Homo sapiens: one gene and its partners. The protein of the gene in region 1 interacts with the protein of each later gene in a biochemical or structural test. Each region holds a gene or a part of one and is shown on either strand. Other genes may lie near its edges.

Region 1 (7,022 bases):
GGGGAGGGAGGAGTGGGAGGGTGGAGAGGACCAAGAGTCCCAGGCCTGGGGCAGTCGGGCAAGTGAGTGTGAGCTCAGGGCTGGGCAGCCCTGGTTGAGGGGTGTCTGACCTGAGGAAGGTGGGATTCAAGGGGCAACATGGCTCCAAGGGGCCTGGTAGGGCTATGCATTGCTTTTTCTCTTTCAGTTCCCCTAAAATATTACACATTACCTATGATGAGGGGTGGGAATAGCCATACATAACCAACCAATCTTTTGTGTGTGAATGAGGCTTTGAGAGGGGCTTCTGAAGGTGCCAGGGGATGGAGCACATTAGAATCACCAGGAGGGGGCTGGGTGCGGTGGCTCATGCCTGTAATCCCAGCACTTTGGAATGCTGAGGTGGGCGGATCACTTGAGGTCAGGAGTTCGAGACCAGCCTGCCCAACATGGTGAAACCCCGTCTCTAATAAAAATACAAAAATTAGCCGGGCATGGTGATGCATGCCTGTAATTGCAGCTACTCGGGAGGCTGAGGCAGGAGAATCGCTTGAACCCAGGAGGCAAAGGTTGCAGTGAGCTGAGATCATACCATTGCACTCCAGCCTGGGCGACAGAGTGAGACTCTGTCTAAAAAAAAAAAAAGAGAATCACCTGGAGGGGCTTTTAAATATCTGGATGCCCAAGTCACACCCTGTACCACTGAAATCAGAGTCTAGGGTGGGAACAGGCATCAATATTTTTCTAGAGTTGAGTGATAGGCGATGGGCATCTCTGCCTGGGCTCAGGCTGAGGCTGAGGCCGAGCCATTTGATGGACCCTCCAAGTCTATGATTGCTAGTGCCCTGGAGTCCCTGTTAAGGCGTCATTTGGCTTTTAGTCCACGGTGGAAATGGAGCTCCCTGTTCATTCCTGGTGGAAATGATCTGACCCTTCTCTCAGATTGAGCTCTGACAGGGGAGGTGGAAAGAGAAAAGACAAAGGGCAGCAGTTGGCCATTTTGTTGTGACCCAGCCAAGTGTGGGGCAGGGAGTATGCAGGGATATGTAGGAGTGGTTGGGATAATTTAGGGAGAATAAGGGTAACAGAATGGTGAAAAATTTCCCTCAAACCACTCTTGTCTTTCCAGCCACAGTCTCTGCAGAGGAAATCATACCTTAAAGATTTAAGTTAGGGTTTCTTGGGGATGTTGGGTGACAGTAGAGATAGGGGTTTGTTTTAGACAGGATTGGGCCCTGGTCAGTTAGGGGATTCTTTAATGCATTCATTCATTCCAAAGACGTACTCCTAGGCCTGTGCAGCAATGACTCCAGCCTGGGCTCCTGAGGAGCCCACAGTTGGGGTGGAGGTCTCTGCCCAGGATGATCAGGATGTGGTGGAGCACAGTACAGGGTCAGTGAAGCCCAGAAGAGAGAGACACTGACCATCTGGGGAATCAGAGAGTACTTCACAGAGGAGGTGACATTTGAGCTGGACCTTAAAGAGGAGCAAGAGTTTGCCAGTAGAGAAGGAAAGGGTCACCCAAGTGGGAGACGAGCAGAGGCAAAGGCCTGGGGGAGGGAGATCAGGACCTTGGGGCCACTGATCCACATGTCTTCTGCTGGGGAGTGTTTAGGAACCTGAGATCAGATCTGCCCTTGAAAAATTCCTAGTCTGATAGGGGAGACATAGTGGGGCCCGGCTAGCTACAGTCAGCCTCTAAGACAGTGACAAGGGAAGGTGCTAGGGTATGGGGAGCTGGAGAGAGACCTGGCTGGGAGCTGGGGGCATCAAGGTGGTGGTTTCATAGAAAACAGAGCTTATGGCCGGGCGTGGTGGCTCACGCCTGTAATCCCAGCATTTTGGGAGGCTGAGGTGGGCAGATCATGAGGTCAGGAGATTGAGACCATCCTGGCTAACACAGTGAAACCCCTTCTCTACTAAATATACAAAAATTAGCCAGTCGTAGTGGCGCGCACATGTAATCCCAGCTATTTGGGAGCCTGAGGCAGGGAATTGCTTCAACCCAGGAGACCTCTGGAGCTTGCAGTGAGCCGAGATCCCACCACTGCACTCCAGCCTGGACAACACAGCAAGACTCCATCTCAAAAAAAAAGAAAAGAAAACAGAGCTTATGCTGGGTTCTGAAGGATGAGTCCGGGGGTCGCCAGGTGGACAGATTGGGGAACAGTGTTCCAGACAGAGGGAACAGCCCATGCCAAGGCCTCAGGAAATGTTTTAAATGGCAAAGTGCAGGCATGGTGGCTCATGGCTGTAATCCCAGAACTTTGGGAGGCCAAGGCATGAGGATCATTTGAGCCCACGAGTCTGAGACCAGCCTGGACAACATAAGGAGACCCGTCTCTACAAAAAAAAAAAATTTTTTTTTTAATTAGCTGGATGTGGTGGTGCACAGCTGTAGTCCCTGGATGTGGTGGTGCACACCTGTAGTCCCAGCTACTCAGGAGGCTGGGATGGGAGGATAGCTTGACCCCAGGAGGTCGAGGCTGCAGTGAGCCGTGATTGTGCCACTGCATTCCAGCCTGGCCGACAGAGCAAGACTCTTGTCTCAAAATATAAATTAAATAAAATAAATAGCAGGGAGACAGTAAGACAAGGGTGAGAAGTAGTAGGAAACAGAGACTGCTAAAGAGAGGGACATTCAGCAGTTACAACCCGTTCTGGGCTTGTGATGCTGGGGACCCAGTGATGAGTCAGACCAGGCCTGTCGCATTGGTCTTGTGGGGAAGGAACCTGGACACAGACAGCCACAACTGGGGGCTCAGGGATGGGACAGCAGGAGGGCAGGGGCTGTGAGAGGCTTAGTTTGCTAGGGCTTCCACATCAAAGTACCACAGACTAGGTGGCTGAAATAAGAGAAATTCATTTTCACAATTACGGAGGCTGTAAGTTAAAGACGAGGATGTCAGCAGGGTTGGTCTCTTCCAAGGCCTCTCTCCTTGGCTTGTGGTCCACTGGTCTTCTCCTGGGTCTTCATATGGTCTTCCCTCTGTTCCCATCTGTGACCTAATTCCCTCTTTTTCTTCTTTTTTTTTTTTTTTGAGATGGAGTCTTGCTCTGTCACTCAGGCTGTAGTGCAGTGGCACGATCTCGGCTGCCTGCAACCTCTGCCTCCTGGGTTCAGGTGATTCTCCTACCTCAGCCTCCTGAGTAGCTGGGATTACAGGCACACACTACCATGCCCGGCTAATTTTTGTATTTTTAGTAGGGGTAGGATTTCACATTGTTGGTTAGGCTGGCCTCAAACTCCTGAACTGGTGATCTGCCCACCTCGGCCTCCCAAAGTGCTGGGATTACAGGCATGAGCCACCGCGCCCGCCCCCTCTTCTTATAAGGATGCCAGTCAGATTGTAGTAAGGTCCACCCTAATGACCTTATTTTACCTTAATTACGTCTTTAAAGACCCTATCTCCAAATACAATTACATTTTGAGGTATCAGGAATTAGGACTTCCGTGTATGAATTTTGGTAGATGCAACTTAGCCCATAGCAGAGGTTAAGGATGAGTGTGGACTTTCTGGGCTGGCAGTGGGGTCCGAGGCTGCCCTGTTCTGTGGACGGGAGAGGGATGCCCAGCTAGGTGGGAGTGTAGAACCTGCACAGCCTGCTGTCAAGCAGACCCCCAAGCAGGGGGAGATGCTCGACATGGGTGAAGAGCACTGTGCATGAGCTGCAAGAGAAGAGCAGTACAGGGTGGTGGGCCAGCCCCTGGAGGCCAGGTTGTTTATTTCTCCAGGAGATAGGGAGGAGCCAGGAAAGGATTGCCCTGAGGCAATGTGGAGCTCCGCTGGAGGGACGGAGGCCAGAGGAGGCTGGGGCTGCAGTTTTAGGGATGCTAGGAGGGGTGGGATTTAGGACCGGGTTAGAGTTAGTGGCTGCCTGAAGTAGGGCTAAGGTCTGGGTGAACTAGAGCTAGGATCAGGCAGGATTCCCGCCTTTACTGCTCCAAAGTCAGGACACACTTGCTGCCCAGCTCCCTTCTTGTCCTTCTTATATCTTGTATCAGTAGCCATTTAATGCCCTGTCCCCAGGGCCAGGAAACAGGACCTGAACTCTGGTAGCGTCCTGGGCACCCACTCCCCACCCCCACCCTCAACAGTCTACATCTTTTTTTTTTTTTTTGAGACAGAGTCTTGCTCTATTATCCAAGCTGGAGTGCAGTGGTACAATCACGGCTCACTGTAGCCTCAATCTCCTGGGCTCGAGCGACCTTCCCATCTCAGCCTACTGAGTAGCTGGGACTGTAGGTGCCCACCACCATCATGTCCGGTTAACTTTTTTATTTTTTGGAGAGACGGGGATTTCACTATGTTGCCCAGGCTGGTCTCAAACTCCTAGCCTCAAGTGATCTACCTGCCTTGGTGCAGTGTGCATCTTAATGGGACTGTGTGCTGGCGTTTTGCTTTTTAGCTTTTAAATGTTTTCTTGCTTGTTAAAACATAACGTATATAGAGTAAAGTGCTCAAATTTTAAGTGTATAGCTTGATGAATTTTTGCTTATGTAAGGACCCTGTAACCACCAAACAAGATCCTTTCTTACCTGGTGCAGGCTTCCTCATGCCCTTTCCCAGTCAGTACCCCCAAGGTGCTCACTCATCTGACTGTGATCATCTGCTATCAGCTTGCCCGTTTTTGAATTTCCTGTAATTGGAATCATAAATTATGTCTGCCTTTGTGTTTGGCATCTTTCATTCAGCCTCATGTCTCCAAGCTTCGGCCATGTGTATGAAGCAGGAGTTTGTTCTTTTTCATTACTGTGGCATATTTCATTGTATGGACATACCACATTTTATTTATCCATTCACCTGTTGACGGCCCCTTAGGCTGTTTCCAGTTTGGGGCCATTATGAAAGACTGCAGAAGAATTCTGCCCATGTCCTTTGATGGGCAGGACACGTGTTTCTTTTGGGCAGATGCCCAGGAGTGGACGTGCTGCATCTTAGGGAGAGGGCATCTTTTCAGCTTTTCTGAGTGGTGCTTGTATCAATTTACACTCCCACCAGCAATGCATGACCTGTTTTTTTAATTAGGAATTTAAAACTCAAGCAGCATTTCACATTGAATAATACTCAATTGCAAGATTTCTAGACTTTTTTTTTTTTTTACAGTTACTGAGTTCTTCCTATTTCTTATCCCTTACTTTAGCTCCATTCTTTTTTTTTTTCTTTTTTTTTTTTTTTGAGACAGGGTCTCACTCTGTCACCCAGGCTGGAGCGCAGTGGTGCAGTCACAGCTCACTGTAGCCTTGACCTCCTGGATTCAAGCGATTCTCCTGCCTCAGCCTCCCCAATAGCTGGGACTACAGGTGCGTGCCATCATGCCCAGCTAATTTTTGTGTCTTTAGTAGAGATGGGGTTTCTCCATGTTGCCTAGGCTGGTCTTGAACTCCTGGGTTCAAGAGATCTGGCTGCCTCAGTCTCCCAAAGTGCTGGGATTGCAGGCGTGAACCACTGTGCCTGGCTTAGCTGTCTTCTTTAAGTATCTTGGTGCAGAGAACACTAGAGTTGGACAGCTCCTTTAGTAGGAGTGGGGTCATGGTTTAGGCAGGGATTTTGGAGTGAGTTGTGGGAAGAGTTTGGATCAGGGACAGGATCTCAGGACAGTTGGGAGTCAAGGTCAGATGAAGGACTTGAGCCATCTGGGCACAACTTGGGATTCAAGGTGAGTAAGTGGACTAAGGATGGGTCAGGCTGAAGCCCAGATTTGTCCTGGGGTCTAGGACCAGGAAGGGTTGGATTCAGTTTCAGGATGAGCTTGGGCGAGGGAACTGTTGGAGATGAGATGGCTGGAAGTCAGGACTAGGGGACATTAGACTAGAGTGGATCCGATTAGAAGTAGGAGCCCAGCAGTCATGAAGACCAGGGGTCCAATCAGGGCACATCTGCTGTCTTGCTGTGCTTTTGGGGAGGTGACATCCCTTCGTGGAGCCTCAGTTTCCTCCTCTGTAAAACGGGGTAATATTAGCACTAACCGCTAATGTGAGCTGTGAGTCATATCTAGCTCTATGCTTGGCACTGGTGAGCACTCGCCTTTCTGTGAAAAGTATCAGAGCGCTTTGAGGACAGGCATTTGTCTCCGTGGGTTTATGTGCTTGCTGCCTGCCACCCTCCCTTGGCCACCTCCTTTCATTTCCTGGGCCTAGGGAGCTATAGAATGGGGTTGTATTACAGGGGTGGACTTGAGACTGCAGCTGGGGCTCAAGCGTGAAGTCCCAGATCAGGTTTAGATTGGAGGACAAGCTCAGGGGTAGAGCCAGATGGAGCTGAGGTTACAGAGGATGAGGTTGGGTCTGCTAGGCCGGTGTGCTAAACATAGGAAGAAAGTCCAGGTGGGAGTAAGATGTGGATGGGGAAAGTGGTGGGGTGGGAAGAGGGCCAGAGGGCGGCTGAATCACACATGCTGAGATCTGACAACTGCCTCCTTTGGGGACGCTGCAGCCCCATCACATCTCTGAGGCCCCACTCAGAGTGGAAAACATGTCTCACCCGAAACCTGGTAGGGCAGGACGGGAGCCTGGGCGGCCCGCCCCAGGAGGAGGCCCAAGGCTGCTCTCCCTCCTTTGGGACGTCACCAGCCTCCTCCTGGGCAGCTGATACCTTCTCACGACCACCTTCCATCTCCTGCCCTGCCCTTTGCTGCACTGTGGGTAACACCCCTGTGTTACTTTCTGGAGAGGTGAAAGGATAAGGCAAGATCCCCCAAGGCCTAAGTGCTGTGTCTCATCTTGCCAGAGGAGGGCAGAGGCCCAGAACGGAGGACATGTCTCTTGGGAAGAGACACTTCCAAGGTGGCTGGGGGTAAGGGGGGAATTTGGGGGAAAGGCTTGGGGAGTGTGGTGGAATGGGGGCCCGAGAGCCCTCCTGGATTCCCCTCCTTCACCCCACTTCCATTCCTCCTCTGTCCCCAGAAATAAGAATGTCTAAGCCCCTGGAGGCCGAGAAGCAAGGTCTGGACTCCCCATCAGAGCACACAGGTGGGTGGGCAGGGAGCAGGGGGGCAGGGGTCACCGTGGGCAGGGGAAGTGGGACAGATGGGAAGAGAGC
Region 2 (7,022 bases), on another chromosome or scaffold:
AAGGCATATTCTAGGTGCACCCTAACAAAGACTAAAATCAAGCCCCAACAAGTTTTTGAAGGGATTAAAAATGTGAGGTTGAGTTACACTAAAGTAAGGAAACAATGGGTTCTCCACATATCATTCTAGCAAAGAGTAAAACCAAGCCTACACAAGTTCAAAGTTATCTGCCAGTAACTGAACTACCTGCAAGAATTTTTAAAATCAACACTTTTCACAAAAATACAAAATCCAGAATCTCTATAATATACCACCTACAATTAAAAAGTAGTAAACATGCAAAAATAAATAAGCAGAAAACTGTAACCTACAGTCAAATAAAAGCAGTCAATAGAAACCAACCCTGAGATGGCTGGGCGTGATGGCTCACACCTGTAATCCCCGCACTTTGGGAGGCCGAGGCACGCAGATCACTTGAGGTCAAGAGCTTGGGACCAGCCTGGCCAACAGGGCAAAACCCCATCTCTACTAAAAATACAAAAATTAGCCAGGCATGGTAGCAGGCACCTGTAATCCCAGCTACTTGGGAGGCTGATGCAGGAGAATCACTTGAACCTAAGAGGTGGAGGTTGCAGTGAGCCAAGATCATGCCACTGCACTCCAGCATGGGCAACAGAGTGAGGCTCTCTCAAAAACACAAACAAAAAAGAAACCAACCCTGAGATAGCCAAGGAGTTAACTCTTACAGACAGAAACCTTAAGATTGACTATCATAAATATTTTAAAGGAATTAATGGAAAATATGTTCAAAAAATTAAAGGAAAATGCATTCAAAGAACTAAAGAAAAATATATTCTTGATGAGTATATAGATGGGAAATATCAGAGAAATGAAAACTATAAAAAAGATAAAAATGAAAACTCTACGACCAAAACAATACAATAAGAAATGAAAAATCTATTGGATGAGATTAGAAATGGCAGACAGGCAACAGTGAACCTGAAGATAGATCAATAGAAAATATATAATCTAAAGAACAGGGAGAAAGAGATATGAGTAAAATTAACTTCTCAACAGAAACACTAGAGAACAATGAAATGATATCTTTTGTATGGTCAAAGAAATGCCAACCCATAATTCTATATTCAGCAAAAATATCCTTCAAACACTAGGGTGAAATAAAAACACTTTCTTATAAACAAAATCAGAGTATATTCTTCACCAACACACCTACACTATAAGAAATGCTAAGGAGCTGGGCGCAGTGGCTCACGCCTGTAATCTCAGCACTTTGAGAGGCTGAGGCAGGCGAATCACCTGAGGTCAGGAGTTCAAGGCCAGCCTGGCCAACATGGTGAAACTCCATCTCTACTGAAAATACAAAAATTAGCCGGGCATGGTGGCACACACCTGTAATCCCAGTTACTCAAGAGGCTGAGGCAGGAGAATCGCTTGAACCTGGGAGGCGGAGGCTGCAGTGAGCCGAGATTGTGCCATTGTACTCCAGCCTGGGCGACAGAGCAAGACTCCGTCTCAAAAAAAAAAAGAAATGCTAAAGAATGTTCTTTAGGCAGATGGAAATCAATATGACTATAAAATCAGATCCAAAGGAAGAAGGGCAATATCAAAGATAGTAAATAGGTGAAAATAAGAGACTATATTTCACCACTTCATACCCACTAGAATGGCTATAATCAAAAGACAACTATAACAAGCATTGGCAACTACATAGAGAGACTAGAGCCCTCATTCACTGCTATAAGATGGTACAGCCACATTGGAAAACAAACTAAACAAAGAGTTACCATATGATCCAATAATTCTACTCCTAAATATATACATGAGAGAAACAAAAACATTTGTCCATACGAAAACTTGTACATGAATGTTCACAGCAGCATTATTCATAACAGCCAAAAAGTAGAAATGACTCAAATGTTCTTCAACTGATGAATGGATAAAATGTAGTATAGCCATACAATGGAATAATATTCAGCAATAAAAAGAAATGTTGTACTCATACATGCTACAACATGGATGAACCTAGAAAATATTACACTATGTAAAAGAAGCCAGTCCAGAGAACCACATACTGTATGATTCCATTTATATGAAAGGTCCAGAATAGGAAAATCTACATAGTCAGAAAGTAGATAACTGGTTGCCTAGTGCTATGGGAGGGGGGAGTTGAGGAGTGTGACGGCTAAGTGGTGAGAGGTATCTTTGTGGGGTAATATGTACATCTCTGAGAATATACTAAAAGCCATTGAAACGTACACTTTAAATGTGTGAATTTTATGGTACGTGAATTATATTCAGTGAAGTAGTTTTTTAAAAACATACCTTTCCTTAAAGACAACTGACTGTTTAAAGCAAAAATAACAACAAATCACAAATACAAATAAAAGATATGCTGAAAGAAACCACTAATAATAATAATAACAATGAGGAGTTAATTGTTGGCCATAAAAGGTGACTGTAATCCCAGAACTTTGGGAGGCTGAGGTGGGTAGATCACTTGAGGCCAGGAGTTTGAGACCAGCCTGGGCAACACAGTCAGAGACTAGCTCTACAAAAAAAAATTAAAAATTAGCTGGCTGTGGCAGTGCACACCTGTAGTCCCAAATTCTGGGGTGGCTGAAGTGGAAGGATCCCTTGAACCCCTGAGTTCAAGGTTGCAGTGACCTGTGATAAAGCCACCACACTCCAGCCTGGGTGATAGAGTGAGATCCTGTCTCTTATTTAAAAAAAAATAAAAATAAATAAAAAATAAAAAGCTACCGGCTAATAGGCCAATACTTTAAAAAATCCAATTATTTCAAAATAAGGCAGGAAAGGAGCAAAAGAACAACAAAAAAACCAAAGGAATACAAGGAAACATGTAGACTTAAACCCAATGATATCAATAATTAGATATAATGGACTAGTACACCAATTAAAAGGCAGAGATTGTCAATCCAGATAAAATGGCAAGACCCAGTGAAGTAGAGTCTCCCAGAGACAGACACAAATTGGTTGAAAGTAAATGGATGGGGGCCAGGTACAGCAGCTCACTCTTGTAATACCTACATTTTGGGAGGCCCAGGCAGGAGGATCACTTGCGCTCAGGCGTTTGAGACCAGCTTGGGAAACATAGCAAGACCCCATCTCTACTAAAAATTAAAAAAAAAAAAAAAAAAAAAACCCCAGGCGCAGTGGCTCACGCCTGTAATCCCAGCACTTTGGGAGGCCGAGGCAGGAGGATCACGAGGTCAGGAGATCGAGACCATCCTGGCTAACACAGTGAAACCCTGTCTCTATTAAAAATACAAAAAATTAGCCAGACGTGGTGGCCCGTGCCTGTAATCCCAGCTACTCGGAAGGCTGAGGCAGGAGAATGGTGTGAACCTGGGAGGCGGAGCTTGCCGTGAGCTGAGATCGCGCCACTGCACTCCAGCCTGGGCAACAGAGCGAGATTCCATCTCAAAAAATAAAAATAATAAATACATAAATAAATAAATAAGCCAGGTGTGGTGCCATGCACCTGTAGTCCTAGCTACTCAAGAGGATGAGGCAGGAGGATCATTTGAGCCCAGGAGTTTATGATTGTGCCACTGATATTACATGGGTTAAAAAATTTTTTTAAAGTAAATGAACGGAAAAATGCACACTATCAAATAGTAAGCACAAGAAATCTGACAGTGCCAAATTATTATCAGACAGAATCTTCAGGAAAAAGCATATTACAAGAGACAAAGAGGGCCATTTCATAATGATAAAAGGAGAAATGTATTAGGAAGGCATAACAATCCCAAATATGTACCCAACAAGAGAGTTCCAAAATGCATAAAGTATGACAAAACTTACAAGAAAAACTGACAAATCTATAATCATAGTGGAGTAATTCATAAGATGAGTAGATAAAATAAATTAATAAAGATACAGAAGATCTGGTAATGCTATCAACCAAGATGGGTATGGTAATATGTACCACGTTTATAACTTATACTACACTACACCCAACAACCACAGAATGTATATTCTTTTCAAATGTACACTGATTGTTCACAAAGACAGGCCATATGCTGGACCATAAGCAAGCTTTCAGAAAACTTCAAAAGACTGAAATTTTATAGAGTATATCCTCTTATCACAACAGAAAATTATAAAATAATATATCTAGAATGTTCCTGTTCTAAATCTTCCACCTAAAATAAGTGCCTTTTCCTAATTTTCTACCCAGAGGGGGCTCTGTTTCCCAATTTGCACAAAGGTACTGAATAAGATCAGTATATTAAATGAGTTAACACCACTTATTATTCTTATCAACAAATAAATTCAAACTTAATCTGATAAAACTTTTAAACATAACTAACAATTTAGAGGAAATACTGAGAACAGAAGAACATATTTAACAATATCACAGAGATGCAATAAGCAAAATTCGGACTCTTCAGGATAAACTATCCAGTAACATCAGTAAATGAGAGAGAAATAGGAGAACAGAAAAAAAAGGGAAAAAAAGAAAGAGAAAGATGTTAAGTAACTATCACAAAACATTGCCTTTATATATCAAGATGGTAGGTACTTGATTTTGCTTATCTTGTACTTTGCGTCTCGTGCGTGATGAAAAAAGTAGATTTAGCACATAAAATTTCCAGAGACAGGTTTTGCCAAGAATGGTTGGGATAGAAATTAATTTTTTTTTAAGATGGAGTCTTGCTCTGTAGCCTAGGCTGGAGTGCAGTGGTGTGATCTCGGCTCACTGCAACCTCTGCCTCCCAGGTTCAAGTGATTCTCCTGCCTTAGCCTCCCCAAGTACCTGGGATTACATGCCCATGCCACCACACCCAGCTAATTATTGTATTTTTAGTAGAGACGGGGTTTCACTATGTTGGCCAGGATGGTCTCGAACTCCTGACCTCAGGTGATCCACCCGCCTCAGCCTCCCAAAGTGCTGGGATTACAGGCGTAAGCCACTGCACCCAGACAGAAATTAAATTATTAAAGGCTGTAGTTAAATGAGAATTAGATACCACTGCCTCCATCTAATTCTATATGCCTTCAGAATGGAAGGCCCATTTCTTGAAATAGGTGGCCTGATAAAGAAAAAAAATTACCATTTTCTGTAATTGAGACAATGTTCATCCTTGAACAGAAAAAATTAAAAAAAGAACATGAAATCCAATCTTCTTCTATATGCATACAATCAATTCATTTGTGCATTTGCTAGATTAAATTGATAAGTAGGGAAATATGCTTCTTCAATTGCTAGCAGCTAAGAGACAAAGGTATTTAATAATGTTTCACCTCTTTTCTCTCCTCTCTGCTCCTGTATTTTCTCCCATAAGTAAAACTCCTAGTTAATTTTTCCATAACCCTATAGTTCCTCTTTTATGAAGCACTACTCCTACTCACTTTATCACTTGCCTCCAAAAAGTCTTTGCTACTTGAGGACATGAAAAAAAAAAAAATAAGTTAATAAAATCCTGCGGAAGCCAGCCTTCAAGATAGCCCAATGATATTCACACTCTTGGTATTCACACTCTTGTGTGTACTCTCCCACATTATAACACTACAAAACACCAGAGGTGATGGTATATCACTTCTATCATTAGGTTTTAAAAGGCTCTACAGCTTCCAGTTCCCTTCCTCCCTCCCTTTCTCTCTTCTCCCATCCATCTCTCCAATCTTCCTTACCTCCGCTCATATCACTAGTTCTGGGAGAAGCCACGTCATAAGTAGCCCTATGGAAGAGTCCATGGGGAGGAACTGAAGCCTCCTGACAAGAGCCACATGAGTGACCTTGGAAACAGATACTCCAGGCCCAGTCAAATCTAGACTGCAGTCCTAGCCAACAACTTGATTACAACATCCTAAGACCGAGCCAGAATCATTCAGCAAAATAATACCTGCTCTTCTCAGACTAACAAGCATATTATAAAAATGCCTATATTCAATCCCATGAAATATATGCCATAAAAACTCAACAAACTATCAAAAAATTTTTCATTAAGAGCCAAAATGAGGCTGGACACGGTGGCTCACGCCTGTAATCTCAGCACTTTGGGATGCCAAAGCGGGTGGATCACCTGAGGTCGGGAGTTCAAGACCAGCCTGACCAACATGGAGAAACCCCATCTCTACTAAAACTACAAAATTAGCCAGAGGTAGTGGCGCATGTCTGTAATCCCAGCTACTCGGAAGGCTGAGACAGGAGAACTGCTTGAACCCGGGAGGCAGAGGTTGTGGTGAGCTATCACGCCATTGCACTCCAGCCTGGGCAACAAGAGCAAAACTCCATCTCAGGCCGGGCGCAGTGGCTCACACCTGTAATCCCAGCACTTTGGGAGGATCGAGGCGGCTGGATCACGAAGTCAGTAGTTCGAGACCAGCCTGGCCAACATAGTGAAACCCCGTCTCTACTAAAAATACAAAAATTAGCCGGGCATGGTGGCATGCGACTGTAGTCCCAGCTACTCGGGAGTCTGAGGCAGGAGAATCACTTGAACCTGGGAGGTGGAGGTTGCAGTGAGCCTAGATCATGCCACGGCACTCCAGCTTGTGTGACAGAGCAAAACTTCGTCTCAAAAAAAAAAAAAAAAAAAATCCAAGATGTTTTTCTTATCAGAAAAGCATCTGATAAGATGCTTTTAAACATCTTTTAAAATGCAAGATTTTAAAAAATAATATTAGCCAATATAGGCAAAGTTGTGTGGCAATAGGAATCTCCATACAGTTGTTGGTAACATAATTGACAAGATCTTTTTTTTTTTTTTTTTGTAAGATAGGGTTTCCCTCCTGGCTAACACGCTGAAACCCCGTCTCTACTAAAAATACAAAAAAATTAGCCGGGCGTGGTAGCGGGCGCCTGTAGTCCCAGCTACTCGGGAGGCTGAGGCAGGACAATGGCGTGAACCCGGGAGGCGGAGCTTGCAGTGAGCCGAGATTGCGCCACTGCACTCTAGCCTGGGCGACAGAGCGAGACTCCTTCTCAAAAAAAAAAAAAAAGGATAGGGTTTCCCTATGTTGTCCAAGTTGGTCTCGAACCCTCCCTCCTCAGCCTCCCAAGTAGCTAGGATTACAGGTAGGAACAACCATGC
Region 3 (7,963 bases), on another chromosome or scaffold:
TATCATGCTTTAAAAAAAATGACACAACTATGAAAGCACGGTTCAGTCACAAACTTTCCTTTCAAAGTAGAGGGGTGAAAACAAGGCCACAGCTCTGGAGGAGGCGGCCCCAGCTCCGTGAAGAAGAGAGGGAACCAGTGAACGGGCCAGAAGCCCCCCTTCCCCCCTAATTAGACCTACAAGTGCAATAAATCTCACTCCTCTTTTTCCGAGCTAAGCTTCCAAAAGGATGATGGCAGCAATGAATCTATGGTTCAGGGTACTCCAGCCCCCAGCCCTCCCCCATTTTAAATAAAGGGTATGAAGAGGTGGAGGGAAAAGTGGAATGAAAAAAAACCACAGAAACAGAGTTTTCTGGGGGAAATAAGCACCCCTCCCCAAGTTCATGCCAGCACAGCCCCAAGCAGCCTCACGCACACGCGGGAAAGAGACACACACCGAGCACATCCAAGACAGAGGGAAGAAGGGGATTTTAAGCCACAGCTCACGATCTCAGGGACACAATCCTGAGCAGGCAGCGGGCGGGGTGGGGGAGCCGGGGAGATGAGCGCAGGCCGGGAGGGGGAGGCAGCGGCAGCGAGCTGGGGAGGGCGGGGGGAGACGCCGGGGGAGGAAGGCAGCCGGGAGAAGGAAAGCTGGGACGGGCCGGGACCACAGGAGCCCCAGCCCCACACAGCAACCACCCGGGCGAGAAAGAAAGAAAGAGCCAGGGAGGCGGGCGAAGCGCGGGGAGAGAAGCAGAGAAGAAATATTCACCTTCCCGCCTCATGCCCACTTTGAGGCACTTCTTGAGGCGGCAGTATTGGCACTGGTTGCGGTGGTGCTGGTCGATGGGACAGTTCCTGTTGGCACGGCATGTGTAAGTTAAGTTCCTGCGGACGCTCCTCTTGAAGAAACTTTTGCAGCCCTCGCAGGTGAATTGGCCGTAGTGCTTGCCGCTCGACTTGTCCCCGCACACCACGCACTCGATGTGCTGCTGGCTCTGGCCCGAACCGGGCGGGCCCTGGCCCTTGTCCCCCGCCGTGCCGGGGGTGGCGGGCGCTCCGGGCTGGCCCGGGGTCTGCGGCGTGTGCGGCGCGCCCGAGCCCGCCTGCTGCTGCTGCTCGCCGGCGCCGCCGCCGCCGCCGCGGGCCGCCTGCGCTGCGGGGTTGGGGCCGCCGGGGTTGCCCCCGGCCACGTCGTCCTGCGGATCTCGCCAGCTGCTAACTACCATTGCCATATCTTTGGGCCCGGGGAGCGCTGGGGGGAGCCGAGCTGCTCGCCGAGGGCCGCGGGGCGCGCGGGCGCGCTGGGAGGGGAAGGGGAAGGGGAAGGGGGGAGGGGGAGGGGGCGGGGGGCCCGCCGGGCGCCCCGGGGTCGCAGGAGCCGAGCCCGAGCCGGACACCGGCCGCTGCCTCCGCCGCCGCCGCCGCTGCCGCCGCTACTGCCTCGGCCGCCCCGCTGCTGCTGCGCGCCCGCCCGCCCTGCTGGCGTTTTGTTGTGGTTCCTGCTGTTTTCTTTCTCTCTTTTTGCAGCCCCCCCAGGCTCTCAGGCTCCCCCCCCAACACCCCTGCTCCCCTCGCCCGCTCCCCCCGCGCTCCGTTCCTGGGGGGGCCGCGCTCTCCTTCCCCCCTCCCCACCCCCCGGCGAGCAAGCTCCCTTCTCTCGCTTTTTTCTTCTTCCCCAAGTTGCAAAATCAGAAATGGCACAGGCGGCAGCCGGGAGCGGCGCGGGGCGCAGCGCCGGGGGCGGCGGGCATGGGCCACGGCGCGCGCACACACTCGCCCTCCGCCTCGCCCGCACCCCCGCGCACACACACACTCGCACACACAGTCGCTCACCCGCGCCGGGCGCCCGCCCGCCGGCCGCTCGGGCTACGCGCAGCGCGCGGGCTGAGCCGACATAGAGGAAGCCGGCGAGGGCGGAGGCGGCGGCGGCGGCGGAGGAGGAGGAGGTCGCGGCTGCAGGCGCCGCTGGAGCTGCCGCCGGAGCTGCTGCGGCGAGCGCCGCTGGAGGAGCCGGGACCCGGGCCGGAGTCCGAGCAGGAGTCGGGGCCGCAGCCGGAGCGCGAGCGGAGGCCGGGGCCGCCCGCGGCGCCGCCGCTGTCCCGGCGGGAGCCCTCGCCGGGCTCGGGAGTGCGGGGAGCGCGGTGAGCCGAGCAGGGCGCTGGGCGAGGCTGCCGCCGGCGATCAGGGCGCGCGGGTGTCGGGGGGCCAGGTCCAGGGCCGGACGCAGCCAGCCATTCAGGAAGGCAGCGCTGGAGAGCGGGAGGCAGCCGGCGAGGAAGATCACACACTTTGCTCTTTTTGTTGTGCCGGTGGCGCCGGGCTCTCGCTGCCTTCTTCTTTCGGGAGGTGACGGAAGGGGGAGAAAAATACGGGATAATTCACGCCGGCGACGAAATCACAGCGAAATAGAAAAAATAAAAATCAGAAGAAAATAATTGCCAAAAAAAGGAAAAAGGAAAAGCGAGAGAGACATCCAAAGTAGGTCGAATAAATAATCCTCTTCTTTTCCTCTTTCTTGCTCCTTCTTCTGCTTCTTCTGCTATAACACACAGAGCTAGTTAAAAAAACCCTGGAGATCGCCCAAAAATGTTCTTTTTTTAGTATTTTAAATAAGTGCTCTTCAGCCGGCAACCAACACCCTCCCTCCAAAAAAAATCATATATGTATAAAATAACGATAAGAAGAATACGAAGGGGGTGCCTCCTCCTCCTCCTCCTCCTTTTTTTTTTCTTTAAGTTTAGCCCTCTCTCTTCTGCAGGAATGGAGTAAAAGAGACAAGGAGGAGGGAGAAAAAGGAGAGAAAGGAGAAGAAGAAGGGGAAAACAACTAGTAGAATATGTAAGAAAAGAGAAAGAGAAGAGAGGTTCAGAGAAGAGAGGAGAGAGAGAGGAGAGGAGGGAGAGAGGGGGGAGAAAGAGGAGAGAGAGAGAGGAGAGAGAGAGAGAGAGAGAAGAGAAGAAGAGAGAGAGAGAGAGAGAGAGAGACCCAAAAATTGAATGCGTTTAAACGGGAGGACTCGCAGAGCAATGTTTCCGAAAGGGGGATCTGCGCGAATGTCTGTATATAGTGAACTTTGACACTACTATTGAAACTGACACGTTTCTATGGAGATCGCTGCCTTATATGGAGCTCGTGTCAAGGAGCCAAGAGAAGGGCTGCTGGCAACTGATAATCAAAGGCGACTGACTGGTCAGAGCCCTGAATCGGGGGGAGAGAAAATGGGAGGCTAAGGTTAGCCAAGCCTCCTGCACGCCATTGGTTGGAGAGCCCCTCCCCCCTCCTCTTTTGCTTTCTTTCTCCCCCCCCCGCTTAGCTACCTACAGACTGGGATGGTGTGGGGAGGAGGAGAGAAAGTGAGGGAGGGGGGTGTGTTTCTGACAAGCGCAATTTACATTGAGATCGCCCTGCGCTGCTATTTACTCTGAGACCTGATTAGTATGGGTCGTCTATGGTCACACACACACACACATACACACACACACACTTACGCTCACACCCCAGAGGGGGAAGGGATGACGAGGGGGAGAACGCCTAGCGATGGGCAAAAGGAGAATTAGAGGGAAATTATTTTGATTTCTTCTGAAAAGTTTTTAAAATTAGATTTTATGAGCGTGAAGAGAGTGTCATTGAAAATGTTTGGAAAAATTTTTAATGGGAATGAAACCCCCACCATTTTAATGATTTGTGAAATATACTGGATTTGGATTGTTTTCTTCTCTCACATATAAGCACAATCCAAGTCTGGATTCTGCTCATTTTATATCCTTTTTAGAAACAAGTAGAAACAGGGTAGGATCTCCCTATTTTTTAATCCAAAGTATACCTTGGTTTAAAAGGTTTAATGATGACAAAGCACACTCCTGGAATTTGCAGCTATTGCCACAAATTCGATCGGAATCAAGGGTTCCTATTTATCCCAAAGATGATTTTAAAAATAAACTTTCCAATCAATCCAATTTTTCCTTCTTCTTTTTTTTTTTTTTTATCACCTGGCTGTTCCAAACTCCAACAATGCTTCAATCATTATTAATAAAACAGTAGTAAGTCCCCATATTGTTGCAGGGTGGGGGGAGATTAGTGTGGCCAAGTCAGTCCCGGGAAAAGAGCAAACAAACGAGAAGATGGAGAGGGGGGGAGGCGGAGAGGGAGAGAGAAAAGGGGGAGGAGGAGAGAGAGAGACAGAGAGAGAGGAGAGGAAAGGAAAGAGAGGAGAGAGGAGAGCGCGCGAGATATTGAGAGAGAGAGAGAGAGAAGAGAGGAGAGGGGAGAGAGAGAGAGAGGAGAGAGAGAGAGACCCAGAGAGAGAGGAGAGAGAGAGAGACCCAGAGAGAGAGAGAGAGAGAGAGACCCAGAGAGAGAGAGAGAGACCGAGAGAGAGAGGAGAGAGGAGAGAGAGAGAGAGGAGAGAGAGAGAGAGAGGAGAGAGAGAGAGAGAGAGACGAGAGGGAGAGGGAGAGGGAGAGGGAGAGGGAGAGGGAGAGGGAGAGGGAGAGAGGAGAGGGAGAGGGAGAGGGAGAGGGGGAGAGAGAGAGAGAGAGAGAGAGAGAGAGAGAGAGAGAGAGAGAGAGAGAGAGAGAGAGAGAGAGACCGAGACCCCGATTCCTGAATCCTGAAGGTGATTGGTCGCGGGAGGAGGGGCAGGCGGGAGGAGCGGGTCCCGCGGCGGGGCTTGCAGGAATCGCTGGCTCCGGCTGCCACCTAGCGGACGGGAGCCGCTCCCGGGCGGCACACAGCCGAGTCCCTCCTCCCCTCCCCGCAGGCAGCCTGTGCCTTTTCTCCAAACGAAGACAGCACTTTGAAAATTCTTTCAATGGATTTTTTTTTCCTTGAAAGATCGTACTGGGGGAAAATGATACTTCTATTAGTTACATATTCTCCAATCGCATACTCGCACCCCCCTCGTTTTGAGATCGCTCCCCTAGGCAGGCTCAGGCGGGCGCGGAGCCGCGCGGAGTGACAAAGCCGCCGCTGCCGCCGCCGGGGGTGGGAGCCGCGCTCGCCCGCCCGCCCCTCGACTCGCGAGGGCGTAAAAGTTTGTCTCAGCTCGAGCATTCCTAGCGCCAACACGCCCTCAGGTAAAGGTGGAAGTAAATGGCCACGCTGTATTGACAGAGGTAGGGTTTGTTTTTTAATACTCGTTCTCACTTTAAGTCTCACCAGGGAGGGGTTTGGGAAGCACTGCGTGTTTGGGGGACGTTTTGCGCTTCCTGGTCTCTCCAGCCTACAAGTCGGGAGTCGGCGACCGCTTAGTGACGAGCGATGATTTTAAAGAGCAGAATAAAAGGTTTTCCCGTGCCTGCCCCACAGCCCCTCCAGCTCGAATAATGGAGAACTGTCAATGCACTCCGCGAGCGGTGGCCCATTGTACGCAGCTGATGGCGAGGAGGCGACTGGGGGTAGCAGGGGCTCCTTGCCCTCGTCCCTATGCCCAAATAAACGCGCAAACGCGCTCCCGTCTTCTGGTCAGTTAAAAGGTGAAACGAACACGATTAAAATAGACCAAAAGAAAAGAAAGAAAAGAAAACCTTTCTATGTACAGATTCTAAATCGTACTCCCCATACAGTCAGAGGCAGGGAGTCGAGGGCAGAGGCAGCAGGCGGAGAGAGGGAGATAGGGCGAGGGAAGGAGAACGCGGAGAGAGACGAAGGGAGTGGGAGACCAGCGACAGCGAGCGCCAGGGCACCGCAGGCACACTGGATGCCCAGTCCGCCGGCCCAGCCGCCCTCGGACCCTGGACCGTGCGTCGTGGGCACCAGAAACGAGACTCGGCCAAATCCTGCCTCACCAGGCAAGTAACATAATGGTTGTCGTTTCTCTTGAACTTGGGGTTGGTAACGGGCAGGGCCGGGAGGCAGTCTTGGCTCGCACGGCCTCCGCAGGCCGAGAGCAGAGTCTAGGCAGCCAGGGCGGGACGAGGAGAACTTTCTTCGGGGCCTGCTCGGGAGTTGCCCTCGCTCGGCCTCTGTCTCGCCGTAGCGCTAAGGCGAGGATCGCGGCCGCCGCGCCTCCTTGGAGGGGAGGATCGTGCCAGGCGAGCAGCAATCCACATTCAAAACAGGCTGCTCCCACCCCCACCCGCTATTCCCTCTCTCTCCTAGGCGGGAAACGGATGCCCGGGCGGAGGACGGGGACCCGCACGTTTAACACCGGCCCGGCTGTTCCTGCTGGTGCCGAGCGCGACCCGCGGTGGAGCCGGCTGCAGAGTCCGGCCCGGCTGGCCCTTGTGCCCGCGCCTTGCCTGGTTACGGCCTGAACCTGGCGAGCTTGGCTGCAGCCGCCCACCTGCGGACGCCGTTTGTAACGCCATCCCCTAATGTAACGCGATCGATGGCTGCCTGTCTGATGTGGGCGATAGTGTCAGCGGATTAAAAGGGACATCGAGCCGCTCTCCCGAGCAGACAACCTGCGGCGGCGGCGAGAGAGCACCGGGATTCGCAGCCTAGCAGCCGAGCCAGACTCCCTGCGCCGCTGCCAGCCGGCTGGGGGCGGGGAGGGGGTCGCCTCCCAGGGGTGGGGACAGAGGGGGTGTGTTGAAAGGAAGAGGCTCAATTAAAACCAACAAGAGCGCTTTCCTCCGTGCGGGGCAGGGGCGTGCGTTTGCGTCAGAGGGCGCGCGGGGGGCGGGGGCAGCCGATGCTGGGGACTGCACCCGGGGGCTGGGGGGTCTCGGAAGCGAGGAGGCCTTGCCTAGCTGGGCTGGCCCGGGGTCAGGCCCTGTAGGTGAGGGCCAAGGCGAGACGGGATGACAGCTGAGCCTGCCCGGGAGCAGAGGCGCCCACCCATCCTTACTGTGGGCTCTCCGTGCCCCCACAGAGCTTTCAAACTTGAAAGAGGCCCCTGGGACCCGGCGTGACCCTAGCGGTGGGGAGAAGTTGGGCCCGCGAGGCCTCAGGCGAAGCCGCGGGCTCCTCCGGAAGGAAGGAGGAGGGTGAAGTCCCCTGTCCTAGTCCCAGGGGTGGGAGTGGGAAGCTGTTGGTGGTGATGCCCGGAGCAGCGGAAGCCCGCGGCTTTTCGGAGGAGGGGAGCGGCTCGCACTCCTACGGGGCATCCTTGCCAACTTTCTGTCACAAGAGGGGGCGGGGAGAAACCAAGGCTTTTCGAGGAGGGCGCTGTCCCCCTCTGGAACTCGTCCGGCCTGAGTGGCACTTAGAGCTCAGTTTCTCTTCGGAAGCCTGTGCTCCCCGACCGCGGTTGCACACCCACAGGGCGCCCCACTTGTGCTCATAGCCCTGCCTCCAGCAAAAATGTCTTCCCTAGAGGCACTGAGAGGTCAGCTTAGTTCCTGGGAAGCCCTTTCTTTCTTTCTTCAAGGCTCTCTTTTGATACTGGTCCCAATTGGCACACTTGTCCTGGGCCTAATGCGACCCACACTCAACCAGGAAATAATGATATCTGTTGTTGTGGGGTAGGGTACCTAATAGAAAACTGATCATAGTTTTCGAGAGTACTTAGATCCCCCAATTGGGAAATCCTACATACTTGTCCAGGCACGCTCAGCTGCAGGAGCAGAAAACGCAGTTGTAGTGTCCACGTTTCTTTCACCCACCCCCTCTTCTTCAGATCTCTCTCCCTCCCTTCTAGGCCAGGCCTTTCACCTCGGAACCTTAAGCTGAGTCTGGACGTGGTTCTTGGACTCGGACCGCTGTGGCTCTTGCCTCAGCATCCTACCCGAGGCCTCCAGCCAGGCCCACAGGGGCTCAGCCCTCTCCAGGGTCTCTCTTTCGGTTTGGCGGGTCTGGGAACTGTAAGGGCCTTGCCGGGGCCTGGGCTCCCGGGAGCCTCCCTTCCTTCCTCTGCCTTCCTGGTTCCCACAGACCTGTTCAGTGCACACTAGATCTTTAGTGTAGTTCCCCAAAAAGGCGATGAGAAGGTACCGCTCCGCTTGGGGAAAGGAATTAGGCTGTAAGCCTATAGTACCCCTTGCGGGCTGCTAGCATCAAGCTCAGCGTTAATCACGTTTTAAAAGACATACCAG

The links. Proteins that work in one complex are often made in the same cells at the same time.
Region 2: the proteins of POU2F2 (region 1) and MNAT1 form a complex in vitro, tested with the Homo sapiens proteins (one study listed by BioGRID).
Region 3: the proteins of POU2F2 (region 1) and NR2F1 form a complex in vitro, tested with the Homo sapiens proteins (one study listed by BioGRID).

The regions. Positions count from the first base shown.
Region 1 is NC_000019.10:42,122,441-42,129,462, reverse strand, and holds part of POU2F2 (POU domain, class 2, transcription factor 2), read left to right. Parts: intron 1-5,168; exon of another isoform or gene 5,169-5,284; intron 5,285-6,536; exon of another isoform or gene 6,537-6,738; coding exon of another isoform or gene 6,739-6,766; exon of another isoform or gene 6,767-6,776; intron 6,777-6,886; coding exon 6,887-6,952; intron 6,953-7,022. UniProt on the Homo sapiens protein: Transcription factor that specifically binds to the octamer motif (5'-ATTTGCAT-3'). Regulates IL6 expression in B cells with POU2AF1. Regulates transcription in a number of tissues in addition to activating immunoglobulin gene expression.
Region 2 is NC_000014.9:60,737,760-60,744,781, reverse strand, and holds part of MNAT1 (CDK-activating kinase assembly factor MAT1), read right to left. Parts: intron 1-7,022.
Region 3 is NC_000005.10:93,578,280-93,586,242, reverse strand, and holds the start of NR2F1 (COUP transcription factor 1), read right to left. Parts: upstream 3,022-7,963; 5' UTR 1,220-3,021; coding exon 757-1,219; exon of another isoform or gene 654-756; intron 1-653. UniProt on the Homo sapiens protein: Coup (chicken ovalbumin upstream promoter) transcription factor binds to the ovalbumin promoter and, in conjunction with another protein (S300-II) stimulates initiation of transcription. Binds to both direct repeats and palindromes of the 5'-AGGTCA-3' motif.